Linked DNA regions of Homo sapiens. The protein of the gene in region 3 purifies or fractionates together with the protein of the main gene of each other region. This does not show direct contact. Each region holds a gene or a part of one and is shown on either strand. Other genes may lie near its edges.

Evidence for each region.
Region 1: the proteins of SLC35F5 (region 3) and SCFD1 purify together in Homo sapiens (affinity purification with mass spectrometry; one large-scale study listed by BioGRID and IntAct). This does not show direct contact.
Region 2: the proteins of SLC35F5 (region 3) and ITPR3 purify together in Homo sapiens (affinity purification with mass spectrometry; one large-scale study listed by BioGRID and IntAct). This does not show direct contact.
Region 4: the proteins of SLC35F5 (region 3) and ATP7B purify together in Homo sapiens (affinity purification with mass spectrometry; one large-scale study listed by BioGRID and IntAct). This does not show direct contact.

What each region holds. Positions count from the first base shown.
Region 1 is NC_000014.9:30,733,335-30,736,350, reverse strand, and holds the end of SCFD1 (sec1 family domain-containing protein 1), read right to left. Parts: intron 1,562-3,016; coding exon 1,493-1,561; intron 766-1,492; coding exon 742-765; 3' UTR 501-741; downstream 1-500. UniProt on the Homo sapiens protein: Plays a role in SNARE-pin assembly and Golgi-to-ER retrograde transport via its interaction with COG4. Involved in vesicular transport between the endoplasmic reticulum and the Golgi.
Region 2 is NC_000006.12:33,627,822-33,631,321, forward strand, and holds part of ITPR3 (inositol 1,4,5-trisphosphate-gated calcium channel ITPR3), read left to right. Parts: intron 1-2,216; exon of another isoform or gene 2,217-2,563; intron 2,564-3,422; exon of another isoform or gene 3,423-3,500.
Region 3 is NC_000002.12:113,743,143-113,746,642, forward strand, and holds part of SLC35F5 (solute carrier family 35 member F5), read right to left. Parts: intron 3,198-3,500; coding exon 3,135-3,197; intron 653-3,134; coding exon 571-652; intron 1-570.
Region 4 is NC_000013.11:52,004,951-52,008,450, forward strand, and holds part of ATP7B (copper-transporting ATPase 2), read right to left. Parts: intron 1-3,500. UniProt on the Homo sapiens protein: Copper ion transmembrane transporter involved in the export of copper out of the cells. It is involved in copper homeostasis in the liver, where it ensures the efflux of copper from hepatocytes into the bile in response to copper overload.

The DNA of each region.
Region 1 (3,016 bases), on a different chromosome or scaffold from region 3:
TGATATGAGGCTCATTAGGAGGGAAGGCTCCCTGGCCTTTATAATAGGAAGTGTTTATTTTTCTTCCCTTTCAAGCAATTGGCTTGCTTTTTATCTTACAGACGTACTGAACGGTATGACTGATCAATACTTCTTGTCAGTACTGCATACCAAAGAAGCTTGGAATCAAGTTTAACACTAACTTTTACGTATTATTTACAACTTTATGAGATGACTGTTTTGTATTTGTCCATTCCAAATCATGTTAGTGTTGCCTTGATCACCATTACATGAAGGAGGGACTTTATGTGATAAAATATACATAGGTGTGCCAGAAGAAGGGAACTTAAAGTGGCTTAAAATCTCCATCTAAAATCTATAGGCAACATGGATACCCAACAAACTATGAGAAAGTAGTTGTATAATTAAAATGCATACAAGTAGGGGACTCACGAACCAATCAAATAAAATTTAAATATGATAACCTTAAAATGTCACCAGCTTCAATCATAACCTATTAGTTATTATATTAGTACTTTCTGATTTATCAGAGAAAATGAACAATGTTGAAATTTTATTTCTGAAATGTTTCTTTTAATCAATACATATTAAGTATATAATTTCCTTAAAAATTAACAAATAACTCTGATTTTCACTGTTAGGACACTGTTACAGAGAAGGAAACATATTGCTCTTCTAACTTTTCTTCTTTTTACATTTATCCACATTCCAAGTAGATTATCATAGTAAGGTTCTTCTGTGTTACTTTTGTCCAAGTTGTGACAACTAAAACAAAACACAAAATCATACATAAAACTTTTAAAAAAGATCATAAAAGAAACATTCAAACATATTTGTAAACCCCTTAATAAATTACACTTCCTATTTTATTCACTGCATTCCTAGAATAATAAATCTTAATGTTCACCACTAACTCAAATGTTAAAACTGAAGGCTGGTCATGGTGGCTCATGCCTGTAATCCTAGCTATTTGGGAGGCTGAGGTGGGAGGATCACTTGAGGCCAGGAGTTTGAGACCAGCCTTGGCAACATAGCAAGAGACTGTCTCTACCAAGAAAAAGAAAAGAAAATGGAATTGCAATAAACGTCGTCATAGTAAAGAAATGTAAACATTATTAGGTAACGTTCAATTGATGGAAAAGAAAAACCCTGGGAATTAAAAAAATTAGTGCTAACTTTGTGACAATATAAAGAGAAATGTCATGAGTGACACACTACTGACAGTTCTCATATATTTTTGTATTTCTAAAGGATCATTAAAAGCCAAAGAAAAGGCTTTCAGTTCTGGAAGGATGGGCAAACTCCTACTGGAAACATTATTACTTATCAAGGTTTTCTTAGTCGTCCATGAAAACACCTTATCTTGGTATAGCTGGATGGCTTTGGTTTCGGCTGGTTCAGGTGAGTAAGTGGTTTTCTTTCTCTCTTTTGAAAAATACCAATAGCAACTAGGGGTATGTTAACAGAAACAAACAACAAATGTATACTTTACCTGTTTTATGAACTGTGTAGCATTAAAAAGCTCACTGCAGCCATATAAAATGTGTTTGCCTTGTTTCCCCTGTAAAAATCAGAGTCAGAACTTAGATACAAGTAACAAGAAATATATTCAATATTCCCAAGAAAAGAGATTAATATGCTAGTTTTTTTGTTATTCTTAACAGTCTTTCTTTGGGATACTGTTGGATTTTAGTATACACATCTACCTAAAATTGCATGAAATAAAGAGGAATAAAGTGGTGAAATGAGCATAGTATTTTTGTCCCCCAAAATATATACTATGGCATACTATTGGTGCCATTTCCTATTACACTAAAAATAGAAGGAATCTCACTGTCAAATTTCACAGGAGCAACAGTTACCTATAAAATCTTAGAACAACATTCTTCCAATGTAGGATGTGTACTACTTGAAGAATACATTCGAGTTTCTTTATGCTGAAAGTGGGCTATGGTGCAGGTGGCATGGATTGTGCTTTTAGTCTCACTTGAGCAACACAGTATTTATAAGTTAATACATCTCATTCCACATTGTCAACATCAGGAATAAAAGTCACAGTTACAATGTTGGAACCCAATCACAACAGCCAAAACTTCTCTATTAGCGATTTGCTAATTTCTTGTATGTATCGTGAACCTGAAGGTAAATTCATGAGATTTCTTTTGTAATATAAAAAAGTTTATTCTAGAACAAAGTAATTTGAGGATTCATCAAAGGACAGAGGAATGATGGCTTTGTAACACAACTCTGTGATGTATAAGCTGAGCAAATATTGTTGGCTGAATACATGTCCTAGATGGCCATCTCTGAGAATAAATAAAACAAAAGCCACAACTCATATTTTTTTCAAAATGAGATGGTATATGGGTCATATAATTGGGATTCTTGTGGCTAACAGGCATTAATTAAAGGTAGAGGTCACAGTATGCAAGGAGAAAGCAGGCACAGGGAAACATTAGAGGGGTCCAGAACTTCTAGGCATAGCTCCCAGGAGAACCTGATTCTTGTTCAAGGAGAGGTCTTTTATGCCTCTCTGGTCAGGTAGGCAAAATTGGGCTGCATGACCAGCATGACCAGGCTCAACTGCAGAAACCAAGGGAACATGACAGAAACCAGGTGAAAAATGTAAAATCAATCTTTACATTTTCTATTAAACAATGCTGGCAAGCCAGCCCAAGGTTGCCCCCTGGTTTATCGTAGTCTCTAGCCCAGGCCCAGAATTCATCACTAGTTAATACTTCATTCAGGTTTGGCTAAACATCAGCACCATGGATCCTGGTATTCTTGGAGATAAGCACAGGGGTACAGTAGCCCAGTTGAGATTAATCCTGACTTGTACAGTCCCCACCCTGGACCAAGCTTTCTTAACCAAATTACTCATCATCATTCTTTTCTAATCGTTTTTAGCCATCCAATGAAGTGTAGGTGTAATTTTAAAGAAACACTGTAGTTTACCAAACATTCCAGTGCAAACTTGTTCTTAATCATGTACAAGCTTGATGACCCCTTTACTTAC
Region 2 (3,500 bases), on a different chromosome or scaffold from region 3:
TAGGCACTTCCCAGGCAGTGCGAGGATGTGATGGAGAAGGGATGAAGTGGAGAGGGGGTGGCGCGGGGTTGGCTCAGCCTAGAACCAGTGCCACACATCCACCTTGAGACTCCAGGGTCTCAGGCTGCATCCAACTGCTCGGCCTGAATCCTGCCGGCCTGAAAGAATCCTGCTGGAGCCACTTGATTACACTCTGCCCTGCCCTACATTCCTGACCCCATATCCCCTCCCTAGCTTGGCCCACTGGGGCGGTGGCTTGGGTTGGGGGTGGGGACACATGCTGAGTTTTAGGGTGGGGCCACACCAGCTTTCTGTTTTCAGCTTAGGGGGAGGTTTCTGGGTTTGGATGACCTCTGCACACATGCCTGGAGTCCCTGCATGTCCACCCCCAGCCCTGCTCTCTAGACTTCACCCCATGTGGGGCTGGGACACCCCTCTCTGGGAGTGAGGGCTGTGTGAGTGGAAGGGAAGAAACCTGGGGTGGGGGAAGGAGGAAAGCAGAACGCAGATCTCTACTAAGTTCATCACAGGCCTCTGAATGTGAGCTCTGAGCCCCCTGGGTATGTCAGGCTGGTCATGCGAAAGGTGCCAGTGACACCCAGCATTTGTACCTGCAGTCACAATTCCCTGCAGTCAGGACACCTGGCTTGGAGAGCTTGGGGTCACGCAGCAGGGGACTGAGAAGAGAAGTTTGTAGGGCCTTTCAGGCTAGGGACTGTGAGAGAAATCGTGGGTGCAGAAATGAGGCTGGGCGTTCACAACACAGTGAGTCCAGGGTGTGGGCTGGGGATGGAACTGGGTGGAGCCACATGCCACATTACAGAGGGATTTCCACTTGGGGAGACAGTCAGGAGAGACTCATTGCAGAGGCTTCAGTGAGGGAGTAAAATGGCCAGAGTGCTATGTTTTTTTGGTCAGCAGGTGGGCAGAGCCGGAAGGGGCTGTCAACACAAATCTCAGTCCAGGAGCAGCTGCAGGTGCTTGAGGCAGACACCTGTGCATATTTGGTTAGCAAATTGCTCTCCCCATCGCTCAGCCAGCCAGCCCGCCAGCCAGCCAGCCATTAGCCCTTCCTGCACAGTGCAGGAGAGCCCTCTTCTCCAGTATGAGTCTAGAAATAGATGATGGGGGTGATATAGGTAATGGGAGGGAAAATTAAGTCTGTGTCTCAAAGATGATGATGATGATGGCAGTGGGTAGACTTTACAGATCACTTACATTGGGTGGCCCTGGCCTTTACCTATGCTCTCACAGCCTGAGGCATAAATACAATTCAGGAAAAGTAGTGGGAAGCATTTAGAACACCAATTTGCTTACCACCTAGACTTAATCATTGTTTACAGTGGTCACATTTGATATTTGTATTTTTTGCTGAAGTATTTTATGATAAATTACATACATTGCATCTTTTTCACCTCTAAATATTTTATTATACATCCCTATGTAACTACAGTGTTGTGATCACACCAATTAATAGTTTCCTAATAGCATTCAGGGCCCAATCCATAGTCAGATGTGCCCATTGTCCTCAGTGGTGTGATCAGAGTTCACTGTAACCTCGAACTCCTGAGCTCAAGCAATCCTCCTGTCTTGGCCTCCCAAAGTGCTGGGATTACAGCCACTGGGCCCAGGTTGTCTGTGTTTGACCGACCATTGGTTTCTTTTTTTTTTTTTTTGAGATGGAGTTTCCCTCTTGTAGCCCAGGCTAGAGTGCAATGGTGCAATCTCGGCTCACTGCAGCCTCTGCCTCCCGGGTTCGAGTGATTCTCCTGCCTCAGCCTCCAGAGTAGCTGGGATTACCAGTGCCAGCCACCACGCCCAGCTAATTTTTGTATTTTTAGTAGAGACGGGTTTCACCATGTTGGGCAGGCTGGTCTTGAACTCCTAACCTCAGGTGATCTGCCCGCCTCAGCCTCCCAAAGTGTTGGGATTACAGGCGTGAGCCACCACGCCGGGCCTGACCATTGGTTTCTTTAAATCAGGATCCTAGGCCAGGCGCAGTGGCTCATGCCTGTAATCCCAGCTCTTTGGGAGGCTGAGGCAGGCGGATCACGAGGTCAAGAGATCAAGACCATCCTGGCCAACGTGGTGAAACTCCGTCTCTACTAAAAATACAAGAATTAGCTGGGCATCGTGGCACATGCCTGTGGTCCCAGCTACTCGGGAGGCTGAGGCAGGAGAATCACTTGAACCCGGGAGGTGGGGGTTGCAGTGAGCTGAGATCGTGCCACTGCACTCCAGCCTGGCAACAGAGTGAGACTCCGTCAAAAAAAAAGAAAAACCATCGAGATCCTGTCAAGGTACTCGTGTTACATTTTCTTATGCCTCTTCAGTTTCCTTTAATCTAAAACAGCGCCCCGCCCTCATCTCCTTTTCCACCATGAACACTGAGTTTCTGGCAAGGCGGGGTTGTGGTGTAGGCTGCTTCACTTTCTGGATTGATTTGTCAGGGCTGCCTTTGTTGCTTTGTTTCCCAGAGAGCTCTGCGGAGGTTTGGAGCCAGGGCGAGTTGGCCTGAGGGTCTGCCCTGCTGAGGGTCCTACAGCCTCAGTTACTCTGTCAAGTGAGAAAGACTGAGAGAGTCCAGTTCTGGGTTATGGAGAGTGGGAGACAAGCCTGGGGCTGGCAGGCCAAATATATGAGGCAAGGGCTGGCTGGCGGCCCATGGTTGCACCTTTTCTCCCTCTCTTCCCAGCTTTCCCTTTGGTCTCCTGCTCCCTGTCTTTCTTCTCCTTGGCCTTACAGATATGTCCTCCCATGCACCCAGCACCGCTGTAGAGACCCCAGGACTTGTCAGACAGCCCGCCTGACCCTGACAGCCAGAAACCCAGGCCTGTGGCAGAGGCAGGGTGGCACACTGGCCCCGACCTTTATTTCTACTGGGCCAAGTTTAGTTGTTCTTGCTATCTCCATTCTTCCTGGAGAGACTATTTGGGTTCTCTGCGTGTGCGGCTTATTGTCCTTTCTAGACTTTAAGCTTTCTGAAGGCTTTAGCTGTACTTGTTTTAAAATTCTATATATTCCATATACTGTCTGGCCCCCCGTTGGTTGGCACAGGGTGGATTCTTGGTAAAGATATGTAGAGGTAAAGGAAATGGTTGCTTTTGCAGGGATGCAGGAGTTAATTTCTTTTCTCTGATGAGCCAGGAGCCCCAACCAGTGAATCTGGGTTTCTCTCTTAACATTCCGCCTAGTAGGTGTGACTTTGGCTATCTGGAGAAAGGGCCCCCCAGGCTTCCCACCCACCACCAGCCCATCCCAGTGTTCTGACAGTGCCTGCTGTTGGAGTGGCCTCCTTGGGGCTGGCCTGCATCTGTGGAGTGGTGGCCAGTTGTAGGGTCTAGCCCTACGGGGCTTAGTGGGTGTTCTCCCCATGTGCGGAGATGAGAGATTGTAATAAATAAAAGCACAAGACAAAGAGATAAAGAAAAAACACCTGGGCCGGGGTGACCACTACCATCAAGACGCGGAGACCAGTAGTGGCCCTGAACGGCTGGGGT
Region 3 (3,500 bases):
TATATACATAACTGCCTATTTCAGGATTTTAGTTTGATTTACTATTTTAGTATTCCTAGTAAAACTTTATTTGGATTTTTCCTCACGCATACCCAATTTACGAGAATTAGTTTCTTGGGCAAGCACGCAGAACAATTCTCTATAGGTCCATTCCTTGCAAGGGAAATTAAGGATAAATACTGCACCTTATGTTAAAGGTGGCATTCTTTACTAAATTCACAGAATCAGCAAAACTCTTATAATTTGCTATTAGGCTCTTTGAGGGCATATTTAAGAGGATATTATTTGTTTATATATAAGCGTGTGATGCATGTGTGTATGTGTGTATACATATATATGATGAAACCATAGAGATTTATGGTATTTGGAAATTATTTCCAGTTGAAATAATACAAAAATGATTATACTATATTAGATTCACAATCCAGTCAAACTTCTAGAAGACTATAGGCTGAGTCAAGACCACATGGAGCAGAACTGCTACATGTTTCAGTCAACCCACATCATCACTAAGTTCTGAAGTGGCTTGAATAAAGGTAAACTTTCTACCCATTTCCAAGTTTTGCTTACTTTTTTCAGTATCAATGTTTGTGCTCTCAGGTTTTTCACTTGGAAGATCATGGAATTTCACAGGCACATACAGAGGTTCACTCTGGAATGTAACAGAAAAAAATATAAACAACAAATATAAAAGCTAACATAGTGGTTAAAATTTAAATGGATAGTACGTAGACACAAATACCATCTAAAACGTGGTTGTTCACCACCAAGTTTAAACAGCAATTTTCAAGACTTAAAAAAGGAAACTCAACAGATCCATACAGCTACAATGACAGAAAAGAATCAGTTTACAGTTTAGCAATGTAATGTAACAGCATTGGCATATTATGATATCTAATATTTAAATGTCATAAAAACATATCTCTTTCTTAGCTAACAGATTCCATCTCAGCTAACAGATTCTCTCTCATTCCTTTTCATTCATTTAACAAATGCTCATAGTAGGAGTCTGAGCTCCTACTATGTCAGACGCTGTTCTAAGTCCTGGGGATAGAAGGGTGAATAAAAGCAGTCTCTTCCTCAGTGATCATGCAGTCTAACAGGCAAGGCAGATAACAAACTGATAACCAGGTATATAGTATGTATTTATATTTACTAAATTGTCTCCTCTTATTATGTAAAACTCAATAAAAAACTAAAATTCTTGAAGACCTTTACACAAAATAGCTACTACTTACCAGTTCTTACTGTGTATTGAGTACCAACTCTAGAGCAGTTAAACATATATTTCTCATTAGTACTCACAATAATTTTATAGAATATGGCCGGCACAGTGGTTCAGGCCTGTAATCCCAGAACTTTGGGAGGCGAGGCTGAGGCGGGCAGATCACTTGAGGTCGGGAGTTCGAGACCAGCCTGGCCAACATGGTGAAACCCCATCTCTACTAAAATACAAAAATTAGCTGAGCGTGGTGGTGTGTGCCTGTAATCCCAGCTACTCATGAGGTGGAGGTAGGCAAATTGCTTGAAACCAGGAGACGGAGGTTGTGCAGTGAGCTGAGATTGCGCCACTGCACTCCAGCTTGGGTGACAGAGCGAGACTCCATCTCAAAATAATAATAATATTTATACTTTTAGAGAATAAAGCTGAGGTATAAAGTAATCAGGTAGCAGACAAAACAATTAAAGCCAGGTTTGTCTAACCATGCTCCAAAGGTCCATATTTTTAGGTAGTTATAAATTCCTCAACTGTTTTTGCAAATGTTCTTCAGATGATCTATATTTAAGGTACAAATCTCCAACTAGGCTGATTCTTCAAAATTAACAGAACTTTTTTTTATTTCTTTGATTTCTCTTTTAACTCCTGGTACAGAGCTCTACCAACAACAAAAAAAAATTCAGTAAATGAAGGGACAGTGGGTCTGGAAATAGACATAATCTCTTTGTTACACTGAAGTTTTCATTACGGCATCTGGCCTAGAGCAATTTGACATATCCATCTTACAGATAATAGTAAGAATTAGTACAAGAGTAGCCAGAAGAGCAGGCTGCCATCTCAACTTTGCCCTCTGTACTGATAGAGACAAATGATATTAAATTATTTTATTGATGCTTAAGATCCCAGGAAAAAAAAATTCTTCATAGTATCTATTAACCTACTCTGCATGCCATCGCAGTTCTAAAAAACAGAGAGACAAACAAGAAACTGTGCTGTGAATAAGGTCACCAAGCCAGTGCTTCACAAATTGCTATTAAATTTTAGAGTAACTAAAATTTTTCTCAGATAAAATGCCATGTTTGGAAAGAAAACAAGTATCATTAAAAATACATTTTAAAGAGATGCCACCCTGAGCAACATAGCAAGACCATGTTCCTAAAAAGTAAAAATAAAAAGTTAGTGGTGGAGTATGCTTGTATTTAGGAGGCTGAGACAAGGTGATTGCTTAAGCCCAGCAGTTGAAAGTTAGAATAAGCCATAATTGTGCCACTGTACTCCACCAGAGGCAATAGACCAAAACCCTGTCTCTAAAAAGAAATCTAAAAATAAAAAATAAAAAAAGAGATGCCTGAGTGATCATCTTAAAAAAAGATTTTTATATACTACCTCTCCAACTAGATTACAAATACTTAAAATAAGTGACTATGTCAATTACTTTACTTGCTTATTACCTGTCCCCTCGCAAATACGCACACACTCACACACTAAAACAAAGCTGTATCTTCAGAGCCTAGAACGTGTTTAACACAGATTTGTCACTGTAAAAAATTTGTGGAACAAACGAATAATTTGCCTATATAGTCTCAGTGTCAAAAATATTTGTTTCTAAATGATAATAATAATGTGCATGAAGTGAAAAAGTTGGTTAGTAACAAAGGATTGTCCTTTATTATTTTCACTCCTGAACCAGTTTTCCCTTCCCCTCTCTCTTCAGAGGCAGCTAAATTGCTTACCTCTAGGCCCCAGGTAACCCTAAGGAGAAAAAAAGTACCAAATTACAATCCTAATGATGGGCACCCAATATTGAGCCATATCTATGTTGTAATACAGCTTTGCTGCCATCAAACCTGTTTCAGTTTTTCCTACCATGGCTCAACCCCACCTCTCTATTCCTGACAAGAAAAGAAGCACTTACCAAAGAACTATTCATAGTTGTATCTGTTGTGCAAGCAGCAAAGTAACCTTCAGCATCTGCAAACTAAATACAGATAACAAGATACAAAATTCAATGAAACTTACATTATACTGTAGGACTAGTCAGACGTAACTCAGATAAATAGAAGCAAAAATCCAGAATCAACCTGTAAGACTAAAACTGTTACTAATAATAATAGCAGCTAATGCCACATATTCACCATTGTGAGGTAGGTATTATCTTCATTTTATTGATGAAAAATTTGAGGCTGAGAGATTTTTAATCCTGACAGTCAGGATTAAAACCCAAGTTAGTCTAAAACCAAAGCTTATGCCCTTTTCGGAACACTACTATAACATTTCAGAT
Region 4 (3,500 bases), on a different chromosome or scaffold from region 3:
GCACCTTCCAGAGCAGCAGCCCAAGCCACACCTGAGCCGCACCTGGGGTGGCCAAGGAGCACCGCAGAATGCAGGAAGCAGAGGCTCGAGGTGGCCCTGGGCAACTAGACCCATAGACCTGCTGGCGGGGTATGGTCCTCTCCCTCCTGCCCTCATGGTCCAGGCACTCTGGGCCTGTGACAGGAGGAGCAGTCCCAAAGACCTCCCAAATCCCTTTAAGGTCATTCTTCCCAGCAGCCTTTTTATTCTTTATGATCTAGCCAGGCTGAAAATTTTCCAAATCTTTCTAAGTTCTGCTTCCCTTTTGATTATAATTTCTGTCTTTAATTTGTTTTCTTCTTGCATTTTCTTATAAGCAATCAAGAGAAGCCATGCAGCACCCTGCACACTCTGCTTAGATATTTCTTCCACCAAATATCCTAGTTCATCACTCTTCATCTAGTTCATCATCTATCCTCCACAAAGCATTAGGGCACAGACACAACTGACCCACGTTCTCTGCCATTTTATAAATAAAAACAGAATGGGCTTTTCTCTAGTTCCCAATAAAATATTCCTCATTTCTGTCTAAGACCTCATCAAAATGACCTTTGCTGTCCATACTTCCACCAACATTCTGATCATGACCACTTAAGTAATCTCTAAGAAGATTCAGGTTCTGTCTACAGCTCTGTTCTTCTAAGCCCTCACCAAAATAATCCTTAATGCTTAGTTTATCACTATCTAGGCTTTTTCCAGCATGTACCTCCAAACTCTTCCAGCCTCTACCCTTTACCCAGTTCCAAAGCCAACTCTGCATTTTCAGGGATCTGTTATACCAACACTCCACTTCTTGGTACCAATTTCTATCTTAGTCCCTTTGTGCCTCTGTTGGGAACAGGCCCCCCAAAATCTAGCCATAAACTGGCCCCAAAACTGACCATAAACAAAATCTCTGCAGCACTGTGAAATGTTCATGATGGCCGTAACGCCCACGCTGGAAGGTTGTGGGTTTACTGGAATGAAGGCAAGGAACACCTGGCCCGCCCAGGGCAGAAAACTGCTTAAAGGTGTCCTTAAACCACAAACAGCATGAGCGATCTGTGCCTTAAGGGCATGTTCCTGCTGCAGATAACTAGCCAGACCCACCCCTTTATTTCGGCCCATCCCTTCCTTTCCCATAAGGGATACTTTTAGTTAATGAATATCTATAGAAACAATGCTAATGACTGGCTTGCTGTTAATAAATTCGTGGGTAAATCTTTGTTCGGGGCTCTCAGCACTGAACACGGATACTTCCTCGATATCTATGCTATGGCATCAGTGAGCAGTGTTCATGTTACTGGGCCATCTCCATCCCTCCCATTGAGAAGAAAATGTGTGTCACGTAAAGAAGCACTTAAATCCATCTCTGTCACTTGCTTAGTTTATTACCCTGCTCCGTAGGTACCAACTGCACTCTGTTGCTGCTAAAACGACCACTGGCCTCTAATACTCAGGACAGTTGAGTTTGGATAGCCTAGTTTCTCTACTGAGAAGACAATTCCATAAAGAATAAGGGTAGAAGACCCAACTTACAGTTCTTTTTCAGGCTTTTCAGCCACCTTTGGTCTGGATGGGGACGATCATTTCCAACAGTCTCTAGCTGGTCTCCCGCAGCTCCCTGCCCAGTTCACCCTCTGCCTTGCAGGAGTGACTTACGCTGTTTTCCTGTAGGGTAAAGTCCAAACTCCTAGCCTGATAAACAGGGTCTTCCACAGACCTTCCAGCCTTCCACTCTTCCAGCCTTGCCACGCCCCTCACAGTCCCCTAAATGCCTCTTTCCATTTCCAGTCCTCTGGACCTTTATACATGCTGGTCTCTGCCTTCAATGCCCTTCTCTCCATGCTCCTGTGTGCCCAATCAATGCCTGCTCTTCCTGAAAGACCCACTCGAGCACCACCTCCCACTGAAGGAATTTTTCTGCCCCTTCTGTGGGTGCTGTACCATGTAGACAGCTCTGTCCCAGCATGCATCCAGCACAGGGGCTGACCTCTCTTCATCTATGCATCCCCCTGCTTGGCCCAGTACCAGGCAAACAGAAAGTGCTCCATAATGTTTGTGGACTGAAGGCTGAATGACCAGGTCACTGCTGCCCCACAGAGAGGCCTCTGAAGAGAAAACAATGTGGAGAAATCATGTCGAGAATCCATTCATTCAAGAACAACTGTGGTGCACCTACATGTGGGAAATAGTTTTTTAAACGGTAAAAACCCGGTTCCCATTTCAAGAAGCACAGAGTTGCAAATAAAAGCTATATTCATTAAATAATCATACCAGGTGGTATGACCAAGTGTCAAGTAAGTTTTGACAATAAAAAATCGCTGAGAAAGTCAGGCAGGCCTGGCTAGGACTCAATCCTAGATCTGCCTCTTATAAGCAAGGTACATCGGGCAAGTTACTTAACTTGTGTCTGGCTCAGTTTCCCCATCTGTAAAGCAATGATGAACTCTGATCTCCTGTTCTATCACTCCCACTCCTTCCCTCTGCCACAGCCACTCTGGCTTTCCTATTGTTCCCCAAACTCTAACATCATGTCTTCTGTACTGTTTCCACTCACGACACTTCTGACACCAAATGTGTGGGGTTTTTCTTCACACCAACCAATGCTCTCTCTCCAGACACTAACTGGGTGCCCTACAATTCAATTCAATTCCGACACCAACCATCTGGAGTTAGCACGGACCCCACAGGTAAGGGCTCAGGCCCACAAGACCACAAGAATGCCCACACTTCACATGCCAGTCGCTGGGTCTGGGCCATCTGTACTCCTGACCAACTGTAAAGTCAGGAGGTTCCTACAATTACCTCCTCAGGTTGGGTAATTTGCTAGAACAGCTCGCAGAACTTAGGAAAGCACTTTATTTAATATCACCAGTTTATTATACAAAATACAGCTAAGAAACCACCACATGGAAAAGATAGGGCAAAATATGGGAATGGAGGTTTCCAGGAGCTTCCATATCCTTTCCAGGAACCACCTTCCCAGCACCTTGATGTGTTCACTAACAGGAAGCTCTCCAAAACCCATCATTTAGGGTTTTTAAGAAAGCTCTATTTGTGATCCACTGCATTGGTTAAAAAAAAAAAGGCCAGGCACAGTGGCCTCACGCCTGTAATTCCAACACTTTGGGAGGCCGAGGTGGGCGGATCACGAGATCAAGAGATAGAGATGACCCTGACCAACATGGTGAAACCCCGTCTCCACTAAAAATACAAAAATTAGCTGGGTGTGGTGGCGTGCGCCTGTAATCCCAGCTACTCAGGAGGCTGAGGCCGGAGAATCACTTGAGCCCGGGAGGCACAGGTTGCAGTGAACCGAGATCCCGCCACTGCACTCCAGCCTAGCAACAGAGTGAGACTACCTCTCAAAAAACTAAATAAATAAAAATTTAAAGAAAGCTCTATTCTGCCGGCATCACTGATTAGATCATTGTCCACTGGTGATTGGCACAATCTCCAGAGGTTGGAGCACGGGGCTG